3 separate regions of the Homo sapiens genome follow, and all the other regions are linked to region 1. The links come from fine-mapping of genetic effects on gene expression. A gene starts in region 1. Each other region holds a variant in brackets. All regions are shown on one strand. Distances are from middle to middle. Region 1 holds the start of EFHB (EF-hand domain family member B). Region 2 has its middle 180 kb from the start of EFHB. Region 3 has its middle 390 kb from the start of SGO1.

Region 1 (10,680 bases):
GAGCTGTAGTACAGGCCGCAGTAAGGTGGCAAGCGTCAGGGATAAAGCTGAAGAGGTTGGCAGAGACTGGATCACGGAGGTCCAATTTTTGCTTCTGAAGGTTCTCTCTGGCGATCCTTGGGGTGAGGAGAGACTGCAGTGGGCTAACATGAAGGCCAGTGTAAAGGTGATTGCAAGATTCCAGTTAAGATGTAATGAGGTCTAAATCAAGTCTGTGACTGTGAAGATACCAGAGATGTTGACCCACATCTCTTATTTTTTTCCTAACATTTTATGATGAACATTTTCAAACATTCAGAAAATCAAAGTAATTGTACTGTGAACACCCATATATCTACCACCCAGATTCTACAATTAGCATTTTACTACACTTGGCTTTATCACATATGTCCAGCCATGTATCAACACTTTATGCATTTCAAAATTATGAGCATGTGTACACATTCCTTTAAACATTTCATCATGCATGCCATTTACTAGAGTTCAATATGTGAACCTTTTTAAAGTTCAAATATCCATAAAATGAAGTAAATGCAAGCGTCTTAAGAGTATAATTTCATGTTTTGACAAATGTATATACCTGTGTAATCCACATCCCTATTGAGATACGGAACACTACCGTAATCTCAGAAAGTTGCCACATGTCCTTTCCCAGTCAATCACAGCCCTTTCTCCTTTCAGAGTTGGCCTTGAGTTTGGAATGTGTGAAAATAGACATTCCAGGTGAAGGGAACCTAGGTGGCTCCCTCTCCAGCAAAGGCATGGAGGCAGGTAACTAGGGAAGAACACATAAATGTTAGTAAACAAGTTCGGATGGATGCCCTTCAGTCTTCCACCTCTCTCACTACTAAGCCCCGTCTTTTTGGGTCAAAGCATAAAACATTGAAGTAGAGAGGAGTTGAGTCAAGGGACTGTCAGGCCGCAGGAGCTAACAGTCTTCAGGGGAGGAGGAGACAGAAGCACTGACAGTCACAATTTAGTGTAACAAATGTTGAATGTTATCTTGTACCAGGGTCAGGGCTATAACCAAGGGAAGGGCAGAAAGTTAGGTAAAATACCACAAATATGCCACAAGCGTTTGTTGTATGTGTGTATGTCTGAGAGAGAGAAGTGATAAGGTGAGTGACTCAGACTCTTGGTACTGGAGGAGCTCAAAGGAAAAGAGAGAAGAGTATTTACCAGCCATGAAAAGTTTTCTGGAGGTAAAGTCTTAAGGGATGTTGACTGTTAAGTGTGGTAGACATAAAGATGTTTCAGTTACAGATAACAGAAAATGTGAGTCAAGCAGGGACATTGGCCCATGTGACTGGTAAGTCTAGAGTTATGTGAGTTTTAGGTACAGTTTGATCAGAGCTTTGGTCCTGATGATCTCGGTGCTCTCCTATTTTGTGTGTGTTAGCTTTGTCTTCAGAATACTTCTTCATGGTCACAATATGACTGTCTGTAGCAGTTTAAAAATTGAGCTGCTATAGTAAATTCTTGGGCATTCTCAATACTTGAGTATGGAACATGTGCATGTGGAAGGAAATAACATTGCACTTTATAAACACTGTATTGCAAATGGAAAATGCAATGTCTTAAATAAAACTATTTAAATTTGGCACCATAAAAAAAGAACTAAGGAGAAGAATATTTATATTAACCTTCTAGAAAGTTGTAGAAAATAGTTTTTTGTGTTTTTTTTTGAGACAGTCTTATTCTGTTATCCAGGCTGGAGTGCAGTGGTGCGATCTCGGCTCACTGCAACCTCTGCCTCCCCGGTTCAAGTGATTCTCCTGCCTCAGCCTCCCGAGTAGCTGAGATTACAAGTGAGCATCACAATGCCCAGTTAATTTTTGTATTTTTAGTAGAGATGGGGTTTCGTCATGTTGGCCAGGCTGGTCTCGAACTCAAGTGATCCTCCTGCCTCAGCCTCCCTAGTATATCCTTCTCACTTTTTATTTATTTATTTATTTATTTATTTATTTATTTATTTATTATTTTGAGATGGAGTTTGGCTCTTGTCATCCAGGCTGGAGTGCAATGGCGCAATCTTGGCTCACTGCAACCTCCACCTCCTGGGTTCAAGCGATTCTCCTTCCTCAGCCTCCCTAGTAGCTGGGATTACAAGTGCTGGCCACCATGTCCAGCTCATTTTTGTATTTTTAGTAGAAAGAGGGTTTCACCATGTTGGTCAGGCTGGTCTCGAACTCCTGACCTCAAATGATCCACCCGCCTAGGCCTCCCACAGTGCTGGGATTACAGGTATGAGCCACTGCGCCTGGCCTTATTTTTTATTTTTATTTTTTGAGACAGGATCTCACTGTATCACCCAGGCTAGAGTGTAGTGGCATGATCATATCTCACTACAGCCTTCAATTCCTGGGCTCAAGTGATCCTCCCACCTCAGCCTCCTGAGTAGCTAGGACTATAGGCATGTACCACTACACCTGGCTGATTTTTGAAATTTTTTGTAGGGATAGGTCTCACTGTGTTACCCATGCATGTCTTGAACTCCTGGACTTTTTTTTTTTTCAGTCTGTCGCCCAGGCTGGCATGCAATGGTGCAATGATGGCTCACTGCCGCATAGACCTCCTGGGCTCAAGTGATCCTCCCACTTCAGCCTCTCAGATAGCTGAGACTACAGATGTGAGCCACCACGCTGGGCTAATTGAATTCTTGGCGTTAAGCAATTCTTCTGCCTTGGCTTCCCGAAGTGTTGAGATTACAGGTGAGTGACTATGTCCAGACCCCTACACACTTTTAAAAAAATATTTTTGGATTTTAAGGGGTTTTTGTAGAGTTCTGGAATCCTGTAAATTCTTTTCAAATTCTGTTTTGCTTTTTTTTTTTTTTTTTTTTTGAGATGGAGTCTCACTCTGTCGCCAGGCTGGAGTGCAGTGGTGTGATCTCGGCTTACTGCAACCTCCGCCTCCCAGGTTCAAGCGATTCTTCTACCTCAGCCTCCCAAGTAGCTGGGACTACAGGCGCCTGCCATCAGGCCCAGCTAATTTTTGTATTTTAAGTAGAAACGGGGTTTCACCATGTTGGCCAGGATGGTCTCGAACTCCTGACCTCGTGATCCACCCGCCTCTACCTCCCAAAGTGCCGGGATTACAGGCATGAGCCACTGCGCCCGGCCATTTTTGGTTTTTTATTTTTAAATGGAATCTCACTCTGTTGTTCAGGCTTGAGTGTCGTGGCACCATCAAGGCTCACTGCAACCTCTGCCTCCGGGTTTAAATGATTCTCTTGCCTCAGCCTCCTGAGTAGCTGGGATTACAGGCGCTGGACACCATGCCCAGCTAATTTTTATATTTTTAGTAGAGACAGGGTTTCGCGATGTTGGCCAGGCTGGTCTCAAACTCCTGACCTCAAGTGATCTGCCTGCCTCGGCCTCCCAAAGTGCTGGGATTAAAGGTGTGAGCCACTGTGCCCAGCCTAATTCAGTTCAAATTCCAAGCTAGGGGTTTCATATCCTATATGTGTAGAACATGACAAATATTTACCAAATATACTTTCATTAAAATCTGAAAGGTGAAACCTCAATTTAAAAAAAAATCTCCTACTTAAAAACAATGAAGTTTTAGTTTGCCACATTATCTTTAAAATACAATATGCCTTATTGTGTAGCATATCTCAAACTTTAAAATATTTAGTTTAGGCCAGGAGCAGTGGCTCACGCCTGTAATCCGACACTTTGGAAGGCCGAGGCGGTGGATCACTTGAGGTCAGGTGTTTGAGACCAGCCTGGCCAACATGGTGAAACCCCGTTTCTACTCAAGATACAAAAATTAGCCTAGCATGGTGGCGCATGCCTGTAATCCCAGCTACCCGGAAGGCTGAGGCAGGAGAATCGCTTGGACCCAGGAGGCGGAGTTTGCAGTGAGCCCAGATTGTGCCACTGCACTCCAGCCTGGGCGACAAAGGGAGACTCCATCTCAAAAAAAAAAAAAATTACTTTAAATGTGATTTAAAGCCTAGTTGTTAAAGTGTAAGTGTTCTCAAGGACTTTAAGATGTCTTTATGCCACAGTTGTCAAATATAATATTTCTAGAATTTAAAGTCATTTTTTAGCACTAAAATAACTACATGCAGGGCGGAGGTACTTGGACAAGGAAGGACCTAAAAAAAGTGTTCATCACCAGAAAGTTTATTTGTTCATCATCACCAACATTAAGAGGCCAATGGCCAGGAAGAAGCCAATTGTTGAAACCATTCTAAAACGACTGTGTTGCTTGGGAAACCAGAGAAGTTGGTGAACATTTGATGCGCCGAAAGCCACATCACTCAAATTTTCTCGCCCTCCAAATCTAGCAAAGAAAAAGAGAGAGGAAGCAGGGATAGAGGGGAAGAGGGGGAGGGAGGGGAGAGAGGGAGAAAGGAGAGAGGAAAGGCAAGAGAGAGAGACACACAGAGAGGGAGAGAGAGGGAGAGGGCAAAGGAGAGGAGAGGGAGAGAGAGGAGAGAGAAGGGGGGGCAGAGAGAAACAGAGGAGAGAGAAGAGGGGAGAGAGAGAGACAGAGGAGAGAGAAGAGGGGAGAGAGAGAGAGATTGAGAGAGAGAGAGAGAAGAATGAGAGATGGGCAGGGATCTGTCCAAGCAGGACTTGAGCGCCAAGCCCCGCCCCTGTTTCCCAGGTAACCTGATAAACAGACTCCATCTTTTCCTCTGTGAACTCGGCTAGGTGTTAAGAGGCAGGCAGGAAGCAATGGACAGGGAGTCCGAGTGAGGTTGTGCTCTTTCCTGAGAGAGGGGTTCCGCAAGGGATTGGAGGCGTCTTTGTAGCCAGGTACAGCTTTCCCCTTAGAGATGAGCGCTCTTGGAGAAATGAGAATGGGGAGAAATCGTCCATGAACATGGAGATTGGACATCCCCACGAAGGAAAGGATGATTTAGGAGACAAGAGGGTCATCATGGGAACAAAATTTCCCATGGAGTTGGGGATCAGAGTAGGATTAGGAAAAGAAGATTCCCGATGCGGGGAGAGCCCTGTGGTTAGTAATAAGTGTGAGGGAAGGATGGCACCACCAGAAACAAAATTTCCATTGAGCAAGGGGCTTGAAATGGGATTAGAAAGACAGAATATTTCTAGGACTGTCATGCAGAGGGGTAGTTTAGGAGTCGACAGTGTCTCAGCTTCACAGGGAACAAAACCTTCTCTGTTGCCAGGAAGAATGGGGTTAGAAAATGAGAGTCTTCTTGCAGGATATACCCATGAACGGATAATACAGCCTCCTTTGGGCAGGGTGTGTGGAAGTTCACAGGCTGCAGGGAGCAGGAGAGCTCCTTTGGCTAGTGGCCCTGAAGGGGTAGAGGAATTAGTGGGAAAGCCTGCTTTCGTTATGGAACCAAGACAGGAAATGGAAAAAGAGTCTACCTGTGTTTTAATGAAACCCAACACAGAGATTAAGCTTCCTGTGGAGGTGGACATTGGACTAACCCAAGCCGAGGGGCCAGATGAGACTAAGAATACAGAGCCCCAAATGGGCTTGGTGATAGAACCTCCCCAATGCCAGTTTGCCCAACAACATGAACAGAGAAAGGAGGCTGGAAACATTGAATCAGGAGTGGAACCTCCAGATCGCATCAGACCCATATACTCTGGGAAGTTTTTTGATCGGACCCCTTGCTGGCCAAGTGTAAGTTTTTTTCCACTTTCCATAGGAACTAAACTGTGTATAGCCATGTCTTTATTGAGATGATAAAGTGATAAAATTTGTTTTGGTTTGAAGAGACAAATCACAAGGATTTTATGAGATTCCTATATTTCTTGCCCCACTGGAATCTTTGCAGATGTTACTTAGATTTCTGATTCTCTGCCTCCCTTCCTAGATGTCAGCTTTGTTTTCTCTGCACACCGGTGGTTTGTTCTGATTTCTCTTTTCTCCTTTAACCTTCATTTCATTTTCCTCAAGCCTCTCACATATTGAAATACATGAAGATACATGCTGTGCCCTAATATTCATACTATGAATGGAAAAGAAAAGTGTTTCTTTTTCCATTCATTGTTTAGTCTGTGAGTTATTTGTTCTTTCAGCAAAGACTTGTGGTAGCCATTGTGCCAGGTACAGGACAAACTAAATTGAAAAGTACATGGTCCCTACCTCTAGGTTTAGGCTCACTCCAGTAATGGAGACAGATAACTAAAGGAATAGTATACAGTTATCTAAATTTATAAAAACACACATGATTCTTCCTTCATAGAAGTACACTCTGAATACAGAGCTCAGTGTAAAGATTGCACAATTCTGTTTAGAAGAGATGGGAAAAGCTTAATAGGGAAAGTAATATTTGAGCTAACATCGAAAGGTGTCAGTATTTGTCTGAAGAAAGAATGAGGTTAGAGCATTTTGGGCATAAAAAGGTATAGAGCACAACCAAAGCTTCCTATGTTCGAGAGGCATAAACAGTTGTATTCAGCCAGCAGGGTGTTGAGAGATGAAGATGAAGAAGAAATATGTAGAAGACATCTAAAGGCCCAGAATATAGGGATAAAACATATGGATACAGTATCAATGGTGGATCTTAATAAGGGTAAAAATAAATAAAATTTGCCTTTTAGAAAGATAATTCTGATATCAGTAGTTATGATGGACTGGAAGGGGGAGATACTGAATGACAAGTAGGTAGTTAGAACAACATTCCAAAGTTCTGATGGACTGGAATTAATGTAGAGTTAGAAAGAATAGAAAGGAGACTGCACTTTTGAGAGGTTTTTAGATGACATTTTAAAAAATTGCCACTCAGTTGTGGATCTACGTGGTGAGTAAGGGAAGTTGGTGGATGACTCAGGAGTTTCTGTGTTGATAATGATCTCTTTGGGTTTGGTGGCAAATGAATGTCCAGTGTTGGCTATCTTCAATATGAGATGACAGGTAAAGAAGCCAGGGAAACACTTGGTAATATGAGACAATTGATGCCCCATGGGTGTGAATGGGAGAAGAAAGTCAAGGCAAGAATCTTGGGAAACATTGACATGAGGTGGTCAGTGAAAAAGATGTCAATAAGGTGAGTTCTTGAGGGCAAGGACTATATCTTGTTCATTGTTTACCTTCATGTCATACCACAATACCTGGCTTATGGTGGTCATTCAATAAATACATGTTTGATAAATAGAAGGAAACCCGGATGATTAAATGGGAGAAAGACCAGTCGGAGAAGAAAAAAGTAAGTCTGAGACATTGGTATTGAGAAACATAAGAAAGTGTCCTTAAGTTATAATGTGAGTAAGAGATTCCACACACTGAAATTTGAAAATAAAACTCAGCTGAAGAGGTCACAGGGCTTCCACAGAATTTTGTCTGGGTTTGAAGACTTTTCCCCTTCAGACTCAGAATGTTCTTTTCTTCTTTGTCTCACACTGCTTTCTGGTTTCCTCTTTGGGTTTTCCCAGCCACTTTACTTGACCACACCGGTTCCCATTTCTGGATTGGTTCTGCAATTTACAGCTTCTGATCTGATCTGATCTCACACACATGCAGACACCAGCTTCCAGTTTCCAGCACAGGCAATTCTAAAACCTCTGCTTCCTCCCACTTCGCATACCTTCCTTTCTAAATGTGATAGGACAAGAAAGAGAGTGTCAAGGAGAGAGTGACCAGCAGTGTTAAATCATCTCTGATAGGCCTTGTGCAGTGGCACTAGCTGTAATCCCAGCACTTTGGGAGGCTGAGGCAGGAGGGTTTTTTTGTTTTGTTTTGTTTTTTGAGACAGAGTCTCACTCCATCACCCAGGCTGGAGTGCAGGGGTGCAATCTCAGCTTGCTGCAAACTCGGCCTCCCAGGCTTAAGCGATTCTTGTGCCTCAGCCTCCCAGTAGCTGGAATTCTAGGAGCATGCCACCACACCCGGCTAATTTTTTTTCCTTCTTTTTTTTCTAAATTTAATTTTTGTATTTTTAATAGAGAAGGGGTTTCGCCATGTTGGCCAGGCTGGTCCCCTACTCCTGACCTCAAGTGTTCGGCCCACCTTGGCCTCCCAAAGTGCTGGGATTACAGGCATGAGCCACCACGCCCAGCAGGCAGCAGGATTTCTCGAGGCCAGGAGTTTGTCATCAGCCTGGGCAACATAGCAAGACTCTGCCTATACAAAAAAGAAAAATTAGCCAGGTGTGGTAGTATGTGCCTGTAGTCCTAGCTACTTGGGAGAGGTGCGAAGATCATTTGAGCCTGGGAGTTCAAGGTTCCAGTGAGCTATGATCACACCACTGCATTCCAGTCTGGGTGACAAAATGAGATCCTGTCTCTAAAAATAAAGTAAAAATAAGATTAATTAACTTTGGACATTAAGAAATTACCAACATTGTTAGAACGACATAATAGAAAAAGAATTCAGATTATAATATACTGAAGAGCGAATGGGTTATTAGAATCGGAGAAAGCTATCATGAAATTTTTTTCTCTTAAGAAGTATGACAGTGAAGAGAAAGAGTAAATATTCCACTTAGAAATCTTATTATTTAGTGAATCAGTGGAGGAGTTTGAGATAACACAAAGGAAGAGAATGGGTGGAACCAGATTCTAGATGAGTGGAAGGGAATGGAATTAGGATTATAGGCAAGAGGAGGGATTCTAACTTTGTTAGAAACAAGGCTTCATTTAAAAATAATTTTTAAGATGTTAAAATATTTATTTTGATTATAACACAAGAATAATAACATTATAGAAAATTTAGAAAACAGGGATGAAAATGCCTAGAATCTTATCACCTTAACACAATGCCTATTAGCACTTTACTGTTTCACGATTATTAATATTTATTGGTGGCTTACTATATTAATATGGCTATTCATAGACCTTTGCAGGTATTAATTCGTTTGCCCTTATTGCAACCTGTGAGTCATCTACTATTACTAAATCCTATTTTACAGGTAAAGAAATGGAAGCAAATTTAGGTAATTCGGCTAAAGTCATATAGCTAAAAAGTGGTGGGATTTGAAATCTCAAATTCCTATTTGAGAGCCTGAGTTGTTAGTTACTCTATACTTTTTATGACACTTTTATCCAAATGCACTTTTATGTAGTTGTTATTATCGAGTGCAAAATTTGTTTTGATTTTTCATTTGTTATTTATAAGATTTAACTATTACTACAAAGACTTCAAAAAGATCTTTTAATGATAAAAAATATTTAAGCCAATTCTTTTTTTTTTTTTTTTTTTTTGAGATGGAGTCTCACGCTCTCGCCCAGGCTGGAGTGCAGTGGCACCATCTCGGCTCGCTGCAATCTCCGCCTCCTGGGTTCAAGCAATTCTCCTGCCTCAGCCTCCTGAGTGGCTGGAATTACAGGTGCCTGCCCCCACACCCGGCTAATTTTTTGTATTTTTAGTAGAGATGGACAGGGTTTCATCATATTGGCCAGGCTGGTCTTGAACTCCTGACCTCGTGATACACCCACCTCAGCCTCCCAAAGTGCAGGGATTACAGGCGTGAGCCACCACACCTGGCCAAGCCAATTCTTTAGTTAACTCTTTCCCTCTATTGTTGGGTATTCATTTTTTATTCTTCCAGAATTTTCTATAAAATAGTTTGTCAGCCAGGCATGGTGGCTCATGCCTATAATCCCAGCATTTTGTGAGGCTGAAGTGGGAGGACTGCTTGAGCCCAGGAGTTTGAGATCAACCTGGGCAACATAGTGAGACCTTGTCTCTTAAAAAAAAAAAAAGTTAAAAAAAAAGTCTTTTTATATGTATTGGAATATTTGCTTAAGGATAGAGTTTCAGCAGAAGCCAAAAGCATGGATCTTTTTCTAGTTTCTATTGCCAAATCTCTTCCTAAAAGATTGTAGCAATAAATTTTAAAAATCATAATAATTTGTTAGGCATTATTTTAATTTATGTTTCTTTAACTTATAATTAGATTGAAAATTGCTCCATATGTTTGTTTTTATTTTTTTTTAATCCTTGTGTGTGGTCACCTTGCTGAACTCTTATTAGTCATAATTGCTTATCATTATTTCCTTTTTTAATGACTATTTTGCTTGTGTATGGATATTTTAGGTTGACAATCATATTGACACTTTTGTCCTTTTCTCTTTAGTATCTATACCTTTCATCTATCTCTATTTCCTACCTCACTGCATTGGCTATGATAAGAAAAAAAATACAATATTAAAAACAATGTCTTTTGGACGGGCACGGTGGCTCACCCCTGAAATCCCAGTGCTTTGGGAGGCCAAGGCAGACAGATCACCTGAGGTCAGGAGTTTGAGACCAGCCTGGCCAATATGGCAAAACTCCGTCTCTACTAAAAACTAAAAAATTAGCTGGGTGTGGTGGCAGGCACCTGTAATCCCAGCTACTCTGGAGGCTGAGGCAGGAGAATCACTTGAGCCTGGGTGGCGGAGGTTGCAGTGAGCCAAGATCGCACCACTGTCCTGGGCGACAGAGCGAGACTCCGCCTCAAACAAACAAACAAAACAACAACAAGGTCTCTTTTCTGATTTTGATGGGAATGATTATAATGTTTCACTATTACATGTGATTTTGTGGGAGATTTCTGATATTTAAAGTTAAGAACACTTGTATCCATTTCCAGTTTGCTAAGAAAGTTTAAAAATCAGGACTAAACAATCTGTGAAAAGCTTTTCCCACATTTATTGAAATATATATTTTTTCTGAATTAAAATAGTTCATTTTCTAAGGGTAAACCATCTTCATATTTTTGGCCTAAGCCCTCCTTGTGATATATTATGTTCATAA
Region 2 (10,680 bases), 180 kb after region 1:
GACAGAATTAAGTTTTGTCCAATTGTGAAAATAAAGCTGTATTAATATGATTCGCTACAAAACAATATTTTCACAAACTTAGTGGCTTAAGACAGCACACATTTATTATCTCACAGTTTCTGTGGTCATGGCTTAGCTAGTTCTCTGCAAGGATGAAATCAAGGTATCAGACAGGGTTGGGTTGTTATCTGAAGACTTGAATGGGGAAGTATCTCCTTCTAACCTCACGTGGTGGTTGACAGAATTTAGTTCCTTGAGGTTATAAGGTAAAGGGTTCCCAATTTTTGCTGTTGGCTCGAGGTCACCGCCAGTTCCCAGAGGCTGTCCTTAGTGTCTTGCACCATAGGCCTCTGAATCTGGTCACGTGCTTCATCAGATCCAGCAAGGGAGAGAGTCTTCTTGTAAGATGGAGGTCACAATTCTATGAAACGTAATCATTCAAGTGACTCACCATCACTATTGGCTAAAAGCAAGCCACAGTTCCCACCAACATTCAAAGGGAGGGGATTTTACAAGGGCATGGATACCAGGACATAAGGATCTGTGTTACAGAAGTATATGGCTGAAGTATAATGACTATTAACATACCAGTAAAAAATTAACATATCAGTCAAATACGTTTTCTTAGACTTTTTGTCCCACACAATGTCAAGCATCATGTGCAGGAAGTATCTACATTCACAAAACTAACTGATGGAACATAGGAGAAAAAATACCCTTAAACTCATTTGAATGTAAATTTGTCATTTGGAACTTGGTTTAGTCAGTTTAATTTTATGAATAACGTTATCAGAAATTCTTGCTTTGATGCTTTAGTTTCATGTTCACAGAGTATTGTAAACAAAAGTTTACCTCACAGAGACATCAATTTGTCTATTAAGAACTGATTTGGGATATTTTAAAAGGTGCAGCCAATTAATTTTGGGAGCTGCAGGCAAGAATAAATAGGCCTTGTCACTATTGTTTGATGGAGAGGTTTGGAAAAATCCTTGACTACCTTTCCTAACCCCAAACCAGAAACTTCTGTATCTGTAGCATTTGATGGTATTTACCCAAATTGACTAGTAAGTCTATGCCTTAATTTTCAGTTTAGCCAATTCCGAAAATAGTGGGCTCTTGGTTGCATTTCTATCTCTGAATCTCAAAACTAAAGAACATAAATCAGAATAAATTTTCCAGCTTATGATTATTTCTATTTCTGAATAAAATTGCTGTCTTTCTTCTGGAGTTGAAATCAGAAATGTTATTAGATGAAAAATATCTGTTAAATGTCCTTGTGATCCTATCTCCAGGAGTAATCACGGCAGACAGTTGTAGTTTAAAATCATTTCTTGCACTGTTTTAGGAATAGCTGGAAGCATAGTATGCTGAGTAGCAATGTATGTACATCATATATATTCTAAAACTCTAAGTTTTCCAGCTTTTGAAAAGGAAAAAACTATGTATAAAATAAAAAAGCCACAAAAGTACTTAACAAAATGTTTCTTCAGTTTCTCTTTTGAGATTATTATTTATTCTGTATAACTTTAAATGATCCTTTTTTTAATTACAAAAAGAAGAACAAAATAATTACCTCTAATACCAGTAGCATGAGATGATCAATAATGTTTTGGTCTATTTCTTTCTAGCCCTATCTTTATGTATAAATGCATTCATAAATGCATTCATATAAGTTTATTATTATGTTATATTACGTTTATTGTACAATTATATATATTACATATATTATGTGTGTGTTTAAGCATATATGTATTTTAACATTTTTGTTTGTATCCCTTGACAATATATCAACATCTTTCATGATCATTAAATGTCACTTATAGTATCGTTTATGATGGATCTGTTTATTGGGAGAACATATTATTTAAACATATACATTTACTTTTGACTATAAAAGCAATTTATGTTTCTAACACTGTGTCATGGTGAATTTCACACACATAGGAAAGTGGAGACATTTATTTACTCAACACTCAGCCTCACAGTTATTCGTACATGATCTATCTTATTTTTTCTAACTCTCTACCCATTCCTCCCACCCCTTGGATTATTAGAAAGGAAATCCCAGACATATTAAAATATTTCATCTGAAAATATTTCAGTATCTCTTTAAAATATAAGACCCTTAAAAAGTATAATCACAACACCATTTTCTTATTTAATATCCAGTTAGTGTTCAGATTTCCTTGAGTATTTTATAAACGTTAATTTGTTTGAATTGGCATCCAAAAAGCAACACATTATTTTTGTAAAAAATGGAACACTACAGATGTTCATGATGCAGAAAGTGAGTAATTCCTCCTCTGCCCGAATTCCACTCCCAGTGATAACTGTGTGAGCATTTATCTTGTATATTGTTCCAGATCCAAGATAATGCCTTTTCTGTATCAATCTAATGACTCCCAAGTGATGGCTATTCTTTCTGTCTTGTCTTTGAACAAATACATGTTTTAGCATATAATAATTCTAATTGTATATATAATTGTATATATTTTCTTATCTGGTTTTAATGTCAAGACATTTTGTATCCCTAAATAAAAGATGGAAGCAGAGCTTAGGAAATATCTGAAAGAGAGCAAAGTATCAATTGATAAGTTAGAAGATTTATGATCATGTTTATGAATTCATTTTCTCTGATATGTGAGTGCCTAATTCTTCCATAAACATGCACTTGCTAATACAACACATTTTAATTTTAAATGACCATATCAACATCTAACCAGATGCCATTTCAATAATTTATAGACCAGTTAGTCTTTTCACTGCCAACCTCACAAAGGAAGTACATTTGTTTGGTGAGAGATGAGAAGGGCACCCAGCTTCACTGTTTTCTCCTAAATGAGAAAAGCAGCTTTACATTTCCTGACTTTTACAACCTTTCCTTCACTTCTGACAAATTCCAATCTAAAAACACTGTCTTTTGGAAAGAGTGTCTATAATCATTCTGTTGCTAATAACACTGCCATGTCCACTTGTCTTGTACAGTTCTTATAAAGTGTCTTTTTCAGAGTCTAAAAGTAAGGATTCGGTGTCTTGCTTATTTTAAAAATCCCACCACAGGTCAGGCACACATGGCTAACACCTGTAATCCCAGCACTTTGGGAGGCCACAATGAGCAGATCCCTGGAGCTCTGGCATTGGAGACCAGCTTGGGCAGCATGGTGAAACCCCGTCTCTAGGGAAAAAAAAAAAAATTAGCCAGGCACAGTGGCATGTGCTACTCAGGGGGCTGAGGTGGGAGGATCTCTTGAGCCAGGGAGGTCAAGGTTGCAGTGAGACGAGATCGCGCCACTGCACTCCAGCACTCCAGCCTGGGCAACAGAGTCAGACCCTGTCTCAAAACAAAAACAAAAACACGGCAATTTTACACATAATGGTGGCTTAATTAAAGATATCTTACTGCTGTATGTGTATCACTTGCTTGTTTAAAATATTACTATGCTAGTTACTATTTCTGCATAAGAAATTACTACAAAATTTAACAGCTTAAAACAACTTTTTCTTTTTTTGTGCCCTTGGATTCTATGGGTGAGGAATTCAAATAGGTCTTAATGGCAATAAATTGTCTCTGGTCCAGAATGACTAGGGCCTTAGCTGGGAGGACTATAAGGCTGAAAGTGACTTAATGGATGGTGGTTGGAATTATTTGAAGGCTTGCTTACTTGCATGTTTGGTTCTTAGGCAGGAATGACTCAAAAACTAGGACTACAGCAGGAGTGGCATCTCTGTGTGGTCTGAATTCCTCACAGCATAATGTCATCAAGATAGGTGGACTCAGGGATCAAAATTTGAGTGTTCCAATGAACAATGTGGAAACAGTGAATTTTTATGACTCAGGCTTAGAAGTCACACAGTAGTGGGAAAGCAATGATCCTTGGATGGTAAGTGCAGGAGTAACCATATGGCTCTAGTCACATTGCTTTGAACACCAATTGTATTGTAGATGTGTTTGA[G/A]TGCCATTAGTACAACAATGGGCAATAAAGCATTCTTTTGTTTTTTGTTTTTTTTTTTTTGGTTTGTGTGTGTGTGTGTGTGTGTGTGTTTGGTCAGCATGACGTCAATCACAGCTCAAGAATTCTATACATGTCTGCATTTCATATTGCCACAATAGTTTTGTTGTGGCCTGGTAGACGATAATTTCACATTTGAAAAGGGTGGTTTAATCAATAAAGACCAAGAGTTTAAAGTGTGGTTTAATATATTTTCCATGATGCCTGTCCATGCTCCATGGCATCCTGTTTTTGTGCTTTTTTGTTCATTGCATTTCCCTTGCCAGGAATGCTTCCTATCTGCCTCTCTGTGTTAAAAACTTTCCCACCAGTCAAGCTTTTATTGGCATTGCTATATAGGTTATCTTCATAAGGATTCCAGCTTTTAAAAGTTGGAAAAAAAAACTATTCCGACATAAAAGCAATTAAGTATACAAAGGTTGATTTCAAGACTCAAATGTCCAGCAATGTGTCTCTTGGAATTATACATCTTCCAAGGTTACTGTTTCCTACCATCTTCTCTCTCTGTGACTTTTTCTCTTTTCTCCTCCTTCTTTTAGGTTGGTGTCCTCAGCTCACATATTTTTTTAACTAAAACTTTTTTTTAAATTCAAGGAGTGCATGTGCAGGTTTGTTATATGGGTGTACCGCATGATAATGAGGTTTGGGCTTCTATTGATCCCATCACTCAAATAGTGAACATAGTACCCAATAGGTAGTTTTCCTCTCCTCCCTCTTGAAATCCCCAGTGTCTATTGTTCCCATCTTTATGTTCATGTATACCCAATGTTCAGCTCCCACTTATAAGTGAGAACATGCAGTATTTGGTTTTCTATTTCTGCAATTATTCACTTAAGATAATGGCCTCCAGCTGCATCCATGTTGCTGCAAAGAACAAGATTTTGTTTGCCTTTTTGTGGGTGTGTAGTATTCCATGGTATATATATACCACATTTTCTTTGTGCAGTCCACCGTTGATGGGTACTTGGGTTGGTTCCATGTCTTTGCTATTGTGAATAGTGCTGCAAGAAACATATTAGTGCATGTGTCTTTTTGGCAGAACAATTTATTTTCTTTTGGGTATATACCCAGTAATTAGATTGCTGGGCCAAATGGCAATTCCATTGTTAGTTCTTTGAGAAATCTCCAAACTGCTTTCCACAGGGGCTAAACTAGTTTACATTCCCACCAATAGTGTATAAGCTCTATTTTCTCTGAAACCTTCCTGGCATCTGTTATTTTTTGATTTTTTAGTAATAGCAATTCTGAATGGTGTGAGATGGTATCTCACTGCAGTTTTGATTTGCATCTCTCTGATGATTAGTGATGTGGAACATTTTTTCATACTTTTTTTTGGCCATTTGTATGTCTCCTTTTGTTCAGCTCATATTTTAATGAGGTATGGCAGTCATCAAATGGGAAGGTGTTCATGTACCTTCCACCAGATCTATAAGCATACCTGCATCAGCCCCATCTTCTCTATCTTTGCTCCTATTATACCTGAGGAAAAGTGAAATTCTCAAAGACTTTATTCTTTCTCTAACTCCTCTCTCTCTCTTCCATTATCATTACTTCCTTTCCACTCAATATTCTCATCAGCCAACAACACCAATAACCTTTGGATCCTTTATCTAAACGAAAACTCTCCATTGACTCCCACATTCTTCTCCAGCTACAAGCCATGTTCAATTCCTTTTCACAGCTAAACTTGTAAAAGAATTGTCTGTCACATGAAAAATGCTCATCATCACTGACCATCAGAGAAATGCAAATTGAAACCACAATGAAATACCATCTCATGCCTGTTAGAATGGCAATCATTAAAGAGCCAGGAAACAACAGATGCTGGAGAGGATATGGAGAAATAGGAACGCTTTGACCCTGTTGGTGGGAGTGTAAATTACTTCAACCATTGTGGAAGACAGTGTGGTAATCCCTCAAGGATATAGAGCTAGAAATACCATTTGACCCAGCCATCCCATTACTGGGTATATACCCAAAGGATTATAAATCATGCTACTATAAAGACACATGCACACGTATGTTTATTGTGGCACTATTCACAATAGCAAAGACTTGGAACCAATCCAAATGTCCTCAATGATAGACTGGATTAAGAAAATGTGGCACATATATACCATGGAATACTATGCAGCCATAAGAAGGATGAGTTCATGTCCTTTGTAGGGCCATGGATGAAGCTGGAAACCATCATTCTCAGCAAACTATCACAAGGACAGAAAACCAAACACCGCATGTTCTCACTCATAGGTGGGAATTGAACAACAAGATCACTTGGACACAGGGTGGGGAACATCACACACCAGGGCCTGTCGTGGGGTGGGGGGCTGGGGGAGGGATAGCATTAGGAGAAATACCTAATGTAAATGACGAGTTGATGGGTGCAGCAAACAAACATAGCACATGTATACCTATGTATCAAACCTGCACGTTGTGCACATGTACCCTAGAACTTAAAGTATAATAATAAAAAACAATAATAATAATAAAAGAATTGTCTGTACTTCTGGTTTGACAAAACCAGAAAAGGCAGCATGACTTCATTCTAGAAATCCCTAGTTGTCCTTCCCCCTAAGAGAGGGGACTAGAAATGCAAACTCATCTTAGAGAACAACAGAAACACAAAATCACAAAATACATGGATGGGCTGCCAAAAACAAAGAGGAACAAGGGGGACAGTGGAGCAAAGATACCTACAACTTATAGACCTCAGAGAGCACAAGGGCACTCTTTTTCAAACTGAAAGGTCCTTCTTGAAGTTCAAAATCCGAATTCCTTATTGCAACAAGGGAAGCAAGGTGAAAGGAGAAGGTGCAGAAGCTTCCCTTAATATGGTCGGTTTTGAAAGTGAAGTTTGTGCTGAACAAATCATGTCACAGAGAAAATCCATATTGCAGGAAACTATTAGTGAGGCAGGGTAGTGGGGAGAGACTACACTGAGTCTTCAGAAAGCTGCTTCACTCCACTGGCAGGGGAGAAGTATAGGACTGAAGAATATGTTCCATTGCAGGTCATAAGGAAAGTTCTCCTAGCCTGGAACATGGCCTTGTTTCTTTCTACACAATCAATTTACCCATAGCTTGAGGAAGAATATTCCAAGATAAATAAATAAATAAGAAAGAGAAGCAGAAGTTAAACAAAAACAGTGCAAATACCATTTGACCCAGCCATCCCGTTACTGGGTATATACCCAAAGGATTATAAATCATGCTACTATAAAGACACATGCACACGTATGTTTATTGTGGCACTATTCACAATAGCAAAGACTTGGAACCAATCCAAATGTCCATCAATGATAGACTGGATTAAGAAAATGTGGCACATATATACCATGGAATACTATGCAGCCATAAAAAGGATGAGTTCATGTCCTTTGTAGGTACCTGGATGAAGCTGGAAACCATCATTCTCAGCAAACTATCACAAGGACAGAAAATCAAACACCGCATGTTCTCACCACATGTCCCTAATAAAAAGGGGCATTAGGGACAGAAAAAAATATAAGAAAATTTGCCGTGGAACAGATAAAAATTGTGTGTATAGGATGGTTCAACACACACAAATCAATAAACATGATAACATCATATCAACAGAATCAAGGACAAAAAATGGTAATTTCAATTGATGATAGAAAAGCATTCAATGAAATTCAACATCCTTCATGATAAAAACTCTTAACAAATTGGGTACAGAAGGAACATGCCTCAACACTGTAATGGTCATATATAACAAATCCACAGCTAGTATCATATGACGTGGGGAAAAATTAGAAGCCTTTCCACTAAAATCTGGAACAAGACAAAGATGCCCACTTCCATTTTTTTTTAAATTTTTTTATTATACTTTAAGTTTTAGGGTACATGTGCACAATGTGCAGGTTTGTTACATATGTATACATGCGCCATGTTGGTGTGCTGTACCCATTAACTCATCATTTACATTCGGTATATCTCCTAATGCTATCCCTCCCCCCTTCCCCCACCCCACAACAGGCCCCAGTATGTGATGTTCCTCTTCCTGTGTCCAAGTGTTCTCATTGTTCAATTCCCACCTATGAGTGAGAACATGCGGTGTTTGGTTTTTTGTCCTTGAGATAGTTTGCCGAGAATGATGGTTTCCAGCTTCATCCATGTCCCTACAAAAGACATGAACTCATCATTTTTATGGCTGCATAGTATTCCATGGTGTATATGTGCCACATTTTCTTCATCCAGTCTATCATTGTTGGACATTTGGATTGGTTCCAAGTCTTTGCTATTGTGAATAGTGCCGCAGTAAACATACGTGTGCATGTGCCTTTATAGAGCATGATTTATAATCCTTTGGGTATATACCCAGTAATGGGATGGCTGGGTCAAATGGTATTTCTAGTTCTAGATCCCTGAGGAATCGCCACACTGACTTCCACAATGGTTGAACTAGTTTACAGTCCCACCGACAGTGTAAAAGTGTTCCTATTCACATCCTCTCCAGCACCTGTTGTTTCCTGACTTTTTAATGATCTCCATTCTAACTGGTGTGAGATGGTATCTCATTGTGGTTTTGATTTGCATTTCTCTGATGGCCAGTGATGATGAGCATTTTTTCATGTGTCTTTTGGCTGCATACATGTCTTTTTTTGAGACGTGTCTGTTCATATCCTTCGCCCACTTGTTGATGGGTTTGTTTTTTTCTTGTAAATTTGTTTGAGTTCATTGTAGATTCTGGATATTAGCCCTTTGTCAGATGAGTAGATTGCAAAAATTTTCTCCCATTCTGTAGGTTGCTTGTTCACTCTGATGGTAGTTTCTTTTGCTGTGCAGAAGCTCTTTAGTTTAATTAGATCTCATTTGTCAATTTTGGCTTTTGTTGCCATTGCTTTTGGTGTTTTAGACATGAAGTCCTTGCCCATGCCTATGTCCTGAATGGTATTGCCTAGGTTTTCTTTTAGGGTTTTTGTGGTTTTAGGTCTAACATTTAAGTCTTTACTCCATCTTGAATTAATTTTTGTATAAGGTGTAAGGAAGGGATCCAGTTTCAGCTTTCTACATATGTCTAGCCAGTTTTCCCAGCACCATTTGTTAAATAGGGAATCCTTTCCCTATTTCTTGTTTTTGTCAGGTTTGTCAAAGATCAGATGGTTGTAGATGTGTGGCATTATTTCTGAGGGCTCTGTTCTGTTCCATTGGTCTATATCTCTGTTTTGGTACCAGTACCATGCTGTTTTGGTTACTGTAGCCTTGTAGTATAGTTTGAAGTCAGGTAGCATGATGCCTCCAGCTTTGTTCTTTTGGCTTAGGATTGACTTGGCGATGCGGGCTCTTTTTTGGTTCCATATGAACTTTAAAGTAGTTTTTTCCAATTCTGTGAAGAAAGTCATTGGTAGCTTGATGGGGATGGCATTGAATCCATAAATTACCTTGGGCGGTATGGCCATTTTCACAATATTGATTCTTCCTACCCATGAGAATGGAATGTTCTTCCATTTGTTTGTATCCTCTTTTATTTCATTGAGCAGTGGTTTGTAGTTCTCCTTGAAGAGGTCCTTCACATCCCTTGTAAGTTGGATTCCTAGGTATTTTATTCTCTTTGAAGCAATTGTGAATGGGAGTTCACTCATGATTTGGCTCTCTGTTTGTCTGTTATTGGTGTATAAGAATGCTTGTGATTTTTGCACATTGATTTTGTATCTTGAGACTTTGCTAAAGTTGCTTATCAGCTTAAGGCGATTTTGGGCTGAGACGATGGGGTTTTCTAGATATACAATCATGTCATCTGCAAACAGGGACAATTTGACTTCCTCTTTTCCTAATTGAATACCCTTTATTTCCTTCTCCTGCCTGATTGCCCTGGCCAGAACTTCCAACACTATGTTGAATAAGAGTGGTGAGAGAGGGCCAAGATGCCCACTTTCATCACTTTTATTCAACATAGTACTAGAAGTCCTAGCCAGAGCAAGTGGCCCAGAGAAAGAAATAAAGTGTATCCAAATTGGAAAGGAAGAAGTCGAATTAACCTTATGGTATGTAAGGCATGTTGCAACAGCTATAACCATTAAAAACATATAACTAATTGTTTAATAAAGGGGAAAATGGAAGTAAAAATGCCTAATGAGTATAGCAGAAGACGAGAAAGGGGAGAAAAAGGAATATAGAACAGATGGGGCAAATAGAGAACAAACAGCAAGATGGAAGACGTCAGCCATGCTACATCAGTAGTTACATTTAATGAAAATTGAATAAGTACTCCAATTCAAGGCAAAACAATGGTTAAATCAGATTTCAAAAGTCCTGTATGTTGCCTAAAAAAGCCATATTTTAAATATAAGGGCACAAAAAAGTTGAAAGTAAAAGAATGAAAAATAATAAGCCATATATACTAGTAGAAATTTTAGTGTGTTTATACTACTACCAGACAAAATAGACTTAAGGCAAGAAGATTGCTAGGGATGAAGAATATTTATCAATAAATTTCAAAAGATTAAAATCATAGAAATGAGAGGAGTGTCGTTCAAAATTTTCTTCTGTTCCATAACAGTCACATCAGTAACACAGGCTGTGGGAGCAGTGGAAGGCAGTCTACTCTGATCAATTGCTTCAACTTCCACACCTTTATGGATGTTACTGCTTCTCCCAGGAGGGTTTATTTAACCATTAACCCATCAAAGAAATTTTGGGTTGCCCCCATA
Region 3 (10,680 bases), 650 kb before region 1:
AGCCAATTAGAATCAACAAAGGAAGGCACTGTGGATATCTGTCCCCTCCAAATCTCATGCTGAAATTTGTTCTGCGATGTTGGATGTGGGGCCTACTGCGAGGTATTTAGGTCTCCACGGTGGATCTTTCATGAATGTGTTGGAGCTCTCCTATTGGTTATGAGTGAGATTTATGTTTTTTTATGTGGTAACATATATCTGAAGTGTTCACACTGGGACAGAGGATTCTTTTCACCCCTGAAATAGTAAGGCTGTGATTTATCTAGGTTGGTTGTCCACTCATCCATCCTAAACCAGAGGCACACGTCTCAGAAAGTCCTACAATGTATATACATCACTTACTGTCCTTCGGTTGCACATGTAAGAGCCAAAACCAGCAAGAACTACTGTCAAAGTAGAATTATCAGTTTACCTAAAGCTACTTTATTCTCCATAGTTATCTTGATATGTATCTGCTAGCTGTGTGACCTTAAGCAAGATACTTCTTTGCGCTTCTGTAAAATGGATCCAACAAGAACACACAGTAGGAATCGTATGTGGGATAAATAAGACACCACTGTAAAATATTTAGCATGGTACCTGACACATAGCACTCAATAAAGTTATATTTCAAAGTCAAAGAATTCAGAGAATTGCTATTATGTTATCGATAAGCGTTTTTCAAAGCATCTAATGAAGGATCATATTAACCCTACCCCTGGCCCTTGTCCCACCCCAGGTCATCATAGACCAACTTTTCTGCATTGCACTGCTTGGAAGTCATGACGATTTCCAATTACTTTAAAAGTTTCAAAATGTGTGCCTTCAATTTCTGAACATATGTCATTGTAAGCCACTATGTTTGTGGACCAACATCCACCCACAAAACATACTTTGAGTAGCACTTTAATAGAACACCATCATTGTCTCCTAAGACAGTAAAGTCAAAATAATGAATTGTCACCATCCTGTTTTTTTTATTTGAATTCTTTGAAATTATCTACATAGAATAGGTGAGGCTCCAGTGTATAAATACAAAATTGAATGGATAAATGCTGGCAATATGTGCATATTCAAGCAAATACATGCACTTGATCAGTTTCTATAATCGAAGAAAAAAGAATTTAGGGAGTCAGAATTATCAAAAATTATGTATAAATTATCTCAAGGATTGTGTATCAAAGTATTTTCAACTTTATTTATATTCACTTGACAGTGTCAATTCCTCCATCAGAAAAAAAAATAGGTGAAGTACTCTACATAGCAGTGTAATGTTATTAAAAAAATCAGAATACTACAGTAAATTGCATCATTTATCAATGTAGTTGATAGTAATTCTACACCAGACCTGCACTTGACACAGGCATGTAACTTATTACCAGTCCCTAGCCATCAGAACATGCACAGAAAAGTATTTTCAAAAGCACTTACTATTTATTCAAAGTGTTTTGAAGTATGAGAAGAGCTAAATTCCTAAGCAGTCAGTATATACTTAAAGCCAAGCACACTTAAAATCATAAATGAATAGTTTTGACTACTAAAGGAAAAATAGTCAATAATTAATTCTACAATTACTTTTTATGTACACCAATACAAAATAATATTTGAAGTTTCTAATATTGCATATAAATTACTACTTATAATGAAAATGTAACCAGTTGATTTTTTATTAGTTTTGACTTACTATTTCTTAGAAAACAAAACCACCAACAAAATAAATACCTATTATGCTTTAAAATTTTAAATTAGGCTGACTGCAAATAAATTAACAGATGTTACATTTATCTCCTTAAGTAGTTCCCTACTCTTGAAGTATAAACTCATTATATTTCTGCTAATAATAATATATATTACTTTATGTATAACGTGTTAGATAATCTTAGAAGAATCAAGTTGAAAAGTTTTAAACTATTACCCAGTTAAAACTGACCATCAGTCAGTTTTCTTGAGTAACAGAAATCTTCATGTTTTGTGGCTGAGGAAATAAAAATGTAAATCGCACTGGATACCCCTACCCATCTACTAGAATAACAAAAGGAAACAAATAGGCAACACAAAGTTCTGGCAAGCATCCAGCACCACAAAAACTCATACATTTCTGGTGGGAATAAGAATGATGCAGATCTTTTTAATAACAGTTCAGAAGTTCCTTACAGTCACTTACTACATAATTCAATAAATTTACACCTAGGTATTTTCCCAAGAAAAATGAGAATATATGTAAGATTGGAGAGTTGGTACTATGTGTGATTGTGACTGGGTAACAACTATGGTTTGTAACAAATACCAATAGCACCAAGAAGGTCTGCAATGCTTAGCTTTCTTAAAGTAAATATCACAGCAATTTTTAATGTTTTTTATTTTCTTAATTGAAAAACAAAAAAATATATATATTTACTGTGTAAAACATTATATGTTGAAACATATATACATTGTGGAATGGCTAAATCAAATTAACATATGTATTACCTCATATAGTTATCATTTTTCTAATGAGAACCCTTAAAATCTACTGTTAGCATTTTTAACCATAGTCACCACATTGTACAAAAGATTTCTTGAACTTTTTCTTCCTATTTATAGGAAATTTTGTGTCCTTTGACCAAAGTCTGTCCAACCCCTACTCCCTCATCACCACCCCAGCCTCTGGTAACCATCACTCTACTCTCTACTTCTATGAGTTCAACTTTTTAAGATTCCACATATAAGTGAGATCATGTGGGGTTTGTCATTCTGTGCCTGGCTTACTTCACTTAACATAAAGTCCTCCAGGTTCATCCATGTTGTCACACATGACTATTTAATGGCTGAATAGTATTCCATTGTGTATCTATGCCATATTTTTTTAATTCATTCATCCATTGACAGACAGTTTGATTTGCTATCTTGGCCATTGTGAATAATGCTGCAAAGAACGTGAAAATGCAAATATCTTTTCAACATACTAACTTCACTTCCTTTGGCTATATACCCAATAATGGGAATGCTGGATATTATGGTAGTTCTGTTTTTAATTTTTTGAGGAGCCTCATACTGTTTTTTATAATGACTACACTAATTTTACATTCACAGCAATAGTGTGTAAAAATTTCTTTTTCTTGGCCAGGCGTGGTGGCTCACGCCTGTAATCCCAGCACTTTGGGAGGCCAAGGTGGGTGGATCACCTGAGTCTAGGAGTTCGAGACAAGCCTGGCCAACGTGGCAAAACCCTGTCTCTACTAAAAATACAAAAATTAGCTGGGCGTGGTGGCCAGTGCTTGTAATCCCAGCTATTCAGGAGGCAGAGGTAGGAGAATCGCTTGAACCCGGAAGGCAGAGGTTACAGCGAGCTAAGATCGCACCACTGCATTCCAGCCTGGGCGACAAGAGTGAAACTCCATCTCAAAAAAAAAAAAAAAAGAATTTCTTTTTCTTTACATCCTCACCAACACTTATCTTTCATCTTTTTTATAAAAGCCTTTCTAACAAGTGTGAGCTGATAACTCCTTGTGGTTTTAATGTGCATTTCTCTGATGATTAGTGATGTCGATCATTTTTTCACATACCTGTTGGTCATTTGTATGTTTTCTCTTGAGAAATGTCTGTCTACGTTCTTGCCCCATTTTTAAATCAGGCTATTCATTTTCTTGCTATTGAGTTCCTTATATATTTTGGATATTCACTTCTTATCAGATATATGGTTTGCAAATATTTTCTCCCATTCCATAGGATGTCTCTCCATCCTGTCAATTGCTTCCTTTTTTATGCAGATTTTAACTTTGATGTAATTCCATTTGTCTGTTTTTGCTTTTGTTGCCTATTCTTTTGGGGTTACAGACAAAAAGAAATCATTATGCAGATCAATAGCATGGAGCTTTTCCACTGTATTTTTTCTGATGGTTTTATAGCTTTGCATGTTATTTCTAAGTCCTTAATTCATTTCGGATTTATTTTGGTATATGGTATGAGATAAGGGTCTAATTTCATTCTTCTGCATGTGGATATAGTTTTACCAACAAAATTTATTTAAAAGATTGTCCTTCACACATTGTGTATTCCTGGCATCTTTATAAAAAAATCAGTTGGTCATAAATGCATGGATTTATTTCCAGTCTATTCTGTACCATTGATCTATGTGTCTATTTCCATGCCAGTACCATGCTGTTTTTGATTACTGTAGCTTTGTAGCATATTTTTAAATCAGATAATGTGATAATTCCAGCTTTATTTTTCTTGCTTAAGATCGCTATGGGTATTTGGGGTCTTTTGTGGTTTCATATGAATTTGGGGATTGCACTTTTATCTTTTCAAAAAACCAACTCTTAGTTTCATTGACCTTTTATATTGTTTTTCTACTCTATTTCTGCTTTCAGCTTTATTATTTCCTTCTTTTTACTAATTTTGGGGTTAGTCTGTTCTTTTTCTATTTCCTTGGGGTGCAGTCTTAGGTTGCTTACTTGATCTCTTTCTTCTTTTTTTGATGTAAGCATTTAGTGCTATAAAACTCCCTGTTAGAACGACTTTTGCTTCATCTCATAAGTTTAGTATGTTGTGTTTTCATTTTCATTTGTCTCAAGATATTTTTTAATTTCCCTTTTAATTTCTTCATTGACCCACTAGTTGTTTAGGAGTAAGTTGTTTAATGTTTATGTATTTGTGAATTTTTCCACAAATTCAAGGTGTTTTTGATATCCAATTTCATACCATTGTGATCAGAAATGATACATAATATAATTTCAGTATTTTAAAATTTGCTAAGACTTACTTTGTGGCCTAACATATGATCTACCCTGGAGAAGGTTCTGTGTGCACTTGAGAAGTATGTGTATTCTGCTGCTGTTTGGCAAAATGTTCTATATTGGTCTGTTATGTCCCATTTGGTCTAAAATATAGTTTAAGTCCAATATTTTCTTGTTTATTTGCTATCTGGATGATTGGTCCATTGCTAAAAGTGGTATATTAAAGTACCCTATTATTGTATTGCAGTTTATTTCTCCCTTCAGTTCTATTAATTTTTTTTATATTTAGGTGCTCCAATATTGAATGTATTTACAATTGCTATCTCATCTTGCTGAACTGACCCCTTTGTCATTATAAATTACCTTCTTTGTAATTACCTTCACTTTACAGTTTTGACTTAAAGGCTATTGTATTTGATATAATTTTTAACCTGTGCTATTTTATGGATTCTATTTGCATAAAATATCTTTTTCTATCTCTTCACTTTCAGACTACTTGTGTCCTTACAAGTGAAATGAGTTTCTTTTAGGCAGCAAATGGTTGTGTTTTGTTTCTTATATTCATTAAGCCACTCTGTGTCCTTTGTTTGAAGAATTTATTTACATTTAAGATAATTATAGATAAGCAAGAACTTACTACTGCCCTTTTGCTAATTGTTTTCCATCTTTTCTTAAGTCCTTTTTCATCTTCTCTTGCTGTCTTCCTGTGTAAGTGGTTTTCTATAGTGCTATCCTTTGGTTCTTTGCTATTTATTTATTACATATCCACTATTGGTTTTTGCTTCAGGGTCACCATGAGGCTTATGAAAATATAACAGGCTGTTTTAAGCTGTTAACAACTTAACTTTGATCACACACACACACACAAACTCCACATTTTTACTCCACTCTCCTTCTATATTTTGAATTGTGATGGTATAATTCATATCTTTTATATTGCATATCCCTTAACAAATTATTGTAGCTATTATTACTTTTAATAGTTTTGTCTTTTAACCTTCATACTAACGATGTAATGGTTTACATGCTATTATTAGAGTATTCAAGTATTCTTCTGACTGTGTGCTTACTTTTACCTGTGAGTTTTATATTTTCATATGTTTTCATGTTACTAATTAGCAACCTCTTCTTTCAGCATGAAGAGCTCCTTTAGCATTTATTGTAAGACAGATCTCATGGTAATGAACTACCTCAAATTTTGTTTGTCTGGAAAAGTCTTTATCTCTCCTTTATTTCTGAAGAACAGAATTTCCAGGCACAGTATTATTGACAGATGGGGTTTTTTTCCTTCAGAACTATAAATATATCATCCCACTCTCTCCTAGCCTGTAAAATTTCTGTTGAGAAATCTGCTAGCCTATTGGAACTCCCTTAAATATTACTTGCTTCTTTTTTCTTGCTGCTTTCAGAATCCTCTCTGCTTTGATTTTTGACAATTTGATTACAATATGTATTGGGCTAGGCTTGTTCAGATTGAACCTAATTGTAGACCTTTGACATTCCTGTACCTAGATGTTTGTATCTTTCCCTAGGTTTGGAAAG[T/C]TTTCACTATTGTTTTTTTAAATAAGCTTTCAACACCTTCGTCTTCCTTTTCTCTTTCTTGAGGTCCTTTGACTTGAAAATTTGCTCTTCTGATGCTGTCCCACTACTCCCATAAACTTTCTTCATTACATTTCATTCTTTTTTTCTTTTTGCTCCTCTGACTGCATATGTTCAAATACCCTGTCTTTGAGTTCAGATGTACTTTGGCTTGATCAATTCTGCAACTGATTCTCTCTTGCTCTTTCTCTCTCTCTCCCCCCCTTCTCTCTCTCTCACACACACACACATACACATACACACATTTTTCATTTCATTGATTGCATTAGCTCCAGAATTTCTATTCAATTTTTTAAACATTTCTATCTCTATTAAATTTCTCATTTTGGTCATTTATTGTTTTCTTCATTTTTTTGAATTGTTTCTCTGTATTTTTTTTGAAGTTCACTGAGCTTACTTAAAACAGTATTTTGAATTCCTTTTCAGGCTACTCAAACATTTTTATTTATTTAGAATCATCACTGGCACTTTATTTCCCTTCAGAGATATCATGTTTCCCTCATTGTCCTTGATTTTTCTGGCCATGCATTGGTGTCTGCCCATTTGAAGAAGTATACATTTAATTATGTCTTTATAGGCTGGCTTTGTCTGGGAAAGCCCTTTACTTGCCAGCCCATTCAGAAACTTTGGGCAGGCCTTCTGGCATAGTTTATTGGAAGGCTTGCTGCTGGAGTCATCTAGCTACTGGCATGGTGCCTGGGTCTGCCACTGGGTGGTCCTGGATCCACTAGAATGGGCCTGTCAAGTAGGTCTACTGGGGTGAGCCTGGAGCCTATACCCTTGAGAACTAACATGACACCTATGTCCACAGAGGCTGACTTGGCACTGACATGGGCTGTGAGTCTGAATCTGAAGGGGCTGGCCGGGCAGTAGGATGGGTCTGAAGTCTGTGTCCTCTGGAACGGGCCTGGATCCTAAGTCTTCAAGGGTAAACCTAGGCCTTAGGTCCACAATGTCTACTCTGAAGCTTGGATATGTAAGAGTGTTGCTGGAGACTCACTCTGCTGGGGAGCCTAGAGTCTGTGTCCATGTGTGTTGACATAGTGCCTAAAGCCATGTGCAAATCTGGCACTGGAACAGGCATGACACCTAGGGCTGTGTGGATCAACTTAGTTCTGGCCTTGTCTGGATCCTAGGATGGGCCTGGTGTCTGGGGGTGCAGGAGCTGTCCTAGTGCTAGATGGACCTGGAACTTGTATCTGGAGGGGCTGGCCATGGGTGCTGGCCTAATGAGCCATTACCCCCTAATGGCTTTGGGGGTAGATAGTGCTGTGACAAGCCTGAAGCCCAGGGCCATAGGGGTCAGCCTGACACTGGGGGTGGTCTGGAGCCTGGGGTTATTGGAGTCAGCCTGACCCTGAGCAGGTCCAAATGCTGGTGCCACTGGTATAAGCCCAAGGCCCAGCTCCACTGGAGCTGGCCTGGCACTAAGGGTGGTCTGAGGCCTGGAGCCACTGAGGTCAGCCCAGTGGTAGGGAAGACCAGAGGTTGAGTTCAGCAGGCAGGCCTGGAGCTTGGTGCTATGTGATAATAGCAAGGCACTGGGGCAAGTGTAATAACTCAGTCTGCAAGTTTCAGTCTGGCGCCTGGGTCCACAGAAGCCTGCCCCGTGCTGGGTTTTACTACAGTGGCCTATGCTGGGGTCCAAGGCAGAATCTGGTCCTTACTTCCCTGTCCTTCCCACATGCAGAGAGCATCCTTCTCCACACTGTGCTGCCTGCATTTGGGTAAAGGGTAATGCAGTTAATGTAAAACTGTTCTTTTTGACCTCTTCAATACATCTTTTTTTTTTCTGTGCTACATCCCGGTGTTGTGATCTCTTACCTGGTTCCCTTAGCTCTTGTGAAGGTATTTTCACACATGAATGGTTTTTCAAATTAATGTTTCTGTGGGGAAACAAGAGTGGGAAAGTCCTATTTCTCTATCTTGCTCTTTCCCTTCTCCTATCACAGAAATTCTAAACCGCTTTCAGGCAAAAGCTGTTACAACAAAAAATTAGAAATAGGTGTGTGCAGATACAGACATATCAAGAATATGAAGGCATGTGGCCACAATACAATGACCTAAGACAAAATCTTTGCAGGATTTTTTCAGTAACAGTGCAGTAAATGAGAAAATACATATTCCAGATATTATCCTCTCAGAAATACATATTTCTAGTTTGTGTCAACAAAATAAGCACATGCATTTATTTAAGGAATTAATATGTTTTTTCATCAGGATGATGTGAACTATGTAAGTTCAAATTTACTTCATCAAAAATATGTGGCACACAAAGAAAATAATGTGGCCTTTGGAGCAAACATACCTTCACCTTAACTACCGAAATGGATCTTCAGAGCACCAACTTTTAAAAAGATCTATTATTTAATGATATCCCTGTGTCCAATATCTTTTTTAGTCATTCCTTTGCAATTACCCTCAGGGCTTCTTCAAAACCTACATGAAGTGGCAATCATTATTATCTGAAAATTTCCAAAAGCAAAATCTATCTCAGAGCACAACAATTCACCATCTGGTTTTTATCCCAAGAAGGACTGGTTATGTAATGAATCTAAGTTCATATAACTAGCCAAGGAAACTATTTTAAAAGGGAAAACAAAGCTTTAATAAATACATACTTGTTTCCAGCACGGAGAATATGGTAACGTGAGTAGGCACTTCACTCAGGCAAAACACTTAAGAGAAGATATGCTCCTAACACACACACACACAAAATTAGCTATTGAGGTAAATAATATAATAATGCAACATTTTTACGTAAGTTTTGATTTTAAAAATCTAAATGATATTTTGTTAATCACAATTTTTTGCACCAATTTTAAAAAATGAAATCTAAGTTAATGCAAAAAATTATGATTAACAAAATATCAAATTTTAAACAAACCCATAGTTCAAATCTGCACTAGCATAAATCACTTCACTTACCTGATTATTTGCTGGTAGAAAAGAAAAGAAACCCCAAAGGCATACAGAGGGAAAGTAAATCATCAGATTACCTTGTCATTATATCTTAACTCATGGAGACAGGTATCATGAGCTCAACCTGAGCTGTCGGAGGAGAGATCTGAGATTTTACACAAAGGAGGGATCCAACCACACTTCTCCAAAACTACTGGGAATACAAATGTGGTTTCATGAATGGTAAAATTCAAATTACACCAGCTTGTTCTCCAAACTAGGTAGTATAGAATTTCAGACTCTTGCAATTACCCTACGAGGATAGCTCATATGTAGTCAGGAAGAGAACTTCCTCAGGGACTGCCTTACACATATTCAAAGTTGGAGCTGGAGAATGTTATATTATACCCACATTCACATACAAAATTCTATTTGAACCTGTGGTGATCACCTGTCTCTCACACTTCACATACATGCTTAAAGGCAGCAGAGGGACTAGGCAGGGGCGCCTTTCTTAATCTAGTAGCTGTTTTAAAATAATATAGCTCTAATAATATGAATGCTCATTCTAATAGTATGCTTGCTCATTCTAGAAATATGGGGTTTTGAGTCACATGATAGCTGTATTCTAATTGTCCAACGCTTATCCATGCATTCTGTGCTGAGTCAATCTTGGTATATCTTTATCTGCAGAAAAGAATGATGAGGCCCTCAGAGAGTAACTTGGGTTGGGTGGCTGCAAGGTCTGAATTGGATTTTCTCTGTTTCTCATTTAGTATTCCTGCTGAGTCAGACTTCTTCTATTAGGGTTAATGGAGGAGCTAACTTACCTCAGAGGGGTATTGAAAGGAGCAGTCAGCATGATTAACACTGAGACTGGCAAAACACTGTAAATGAAGACCAGTTCTCCTCAGCATGTCAGGTAAAATTGAGGCTACCATTTCAATAATTCAGCCTCTTTTACCTCTGTTACACCCACAATTATCTGAGATATTTTTGTCATTTTAGAAGGTCATTCTAGGTCAGGATACATTGGATTCGTATCCACAAAATCTCAAGAATGCGAATAGGTCTCTGCATCCCTCAACTTCCCGGTGGAAGTGCACTGAAATTTTCTGGCATTATTCACCATCCTATTCCCACGGGTATGAGTAGGAGAGTCTTCATTCCAATGTGTGTGTTTTATGCTCAGTCCCAGAGCTTCTCCTCCTCCTAGCCACAACATCTTAGCCCAAGGCTCTCTTAAAGTTTGCTCTTACTTGGAGTCCACCACCTACACTGAGTCTCTTTTTTTTTCTATTGATAAATAGACATCCTCATGTCTCTCCTATATAGTTTATGCATTCATTTAACAAATGAATTCAGTGTCAGACACTGTAAAAGAAATTTATAACAGTCAATAAGGGGTATATCTGCTTTCATGGACTGTATTTTTAGAAATAGCTGGTGCTTTATTCCACGGCTACTATAACTTTTCCTTCGA

What was found.
Region 2: its variant is fine-mapped to the expression of EFHB in sun-exposed skin (GTEx, PIP above 0.99).
Region 3: its variant is fine-mapped to the expression of EFHB in coronary artery (GTEx, PIP 0.98).

The regions. Positions count from the first base shown.
Region 1 is chr3:19,928,172-19,938,851 of GRCh38, reverse strand. It overlaps EFHB (EF-hand domain family member B), which reads left to right and starts at 4,635. Exons shown (of 13, transcript NM_144715.4): 1 at 4,635-5,622. The coding sequence starts at 4,834. RefSeq lists a silencer at 7,341-7,635.
Region 2 is chr3:19,751,071-19,761,750 of GRCh38, reverse strand. No RefSeq gene overlaps it. Among named protein-coding and RNA genes, the nearest start is that of EFHB, 180 kb to the left of the region's middle. The variant G/A (reference allele first, on the strand shown) is at 3,954.
Region 3 is chr3:20,574,566-20,585,245 of GRCh38, reverse strand. No RefSeq gene overlaps it. Among named protein-coding and RNA genes, the nearest start is that of SGO1, 390 kb to the right of the region's middle. The variant T/C (reference allele first, on the strand shown) is at 6,240.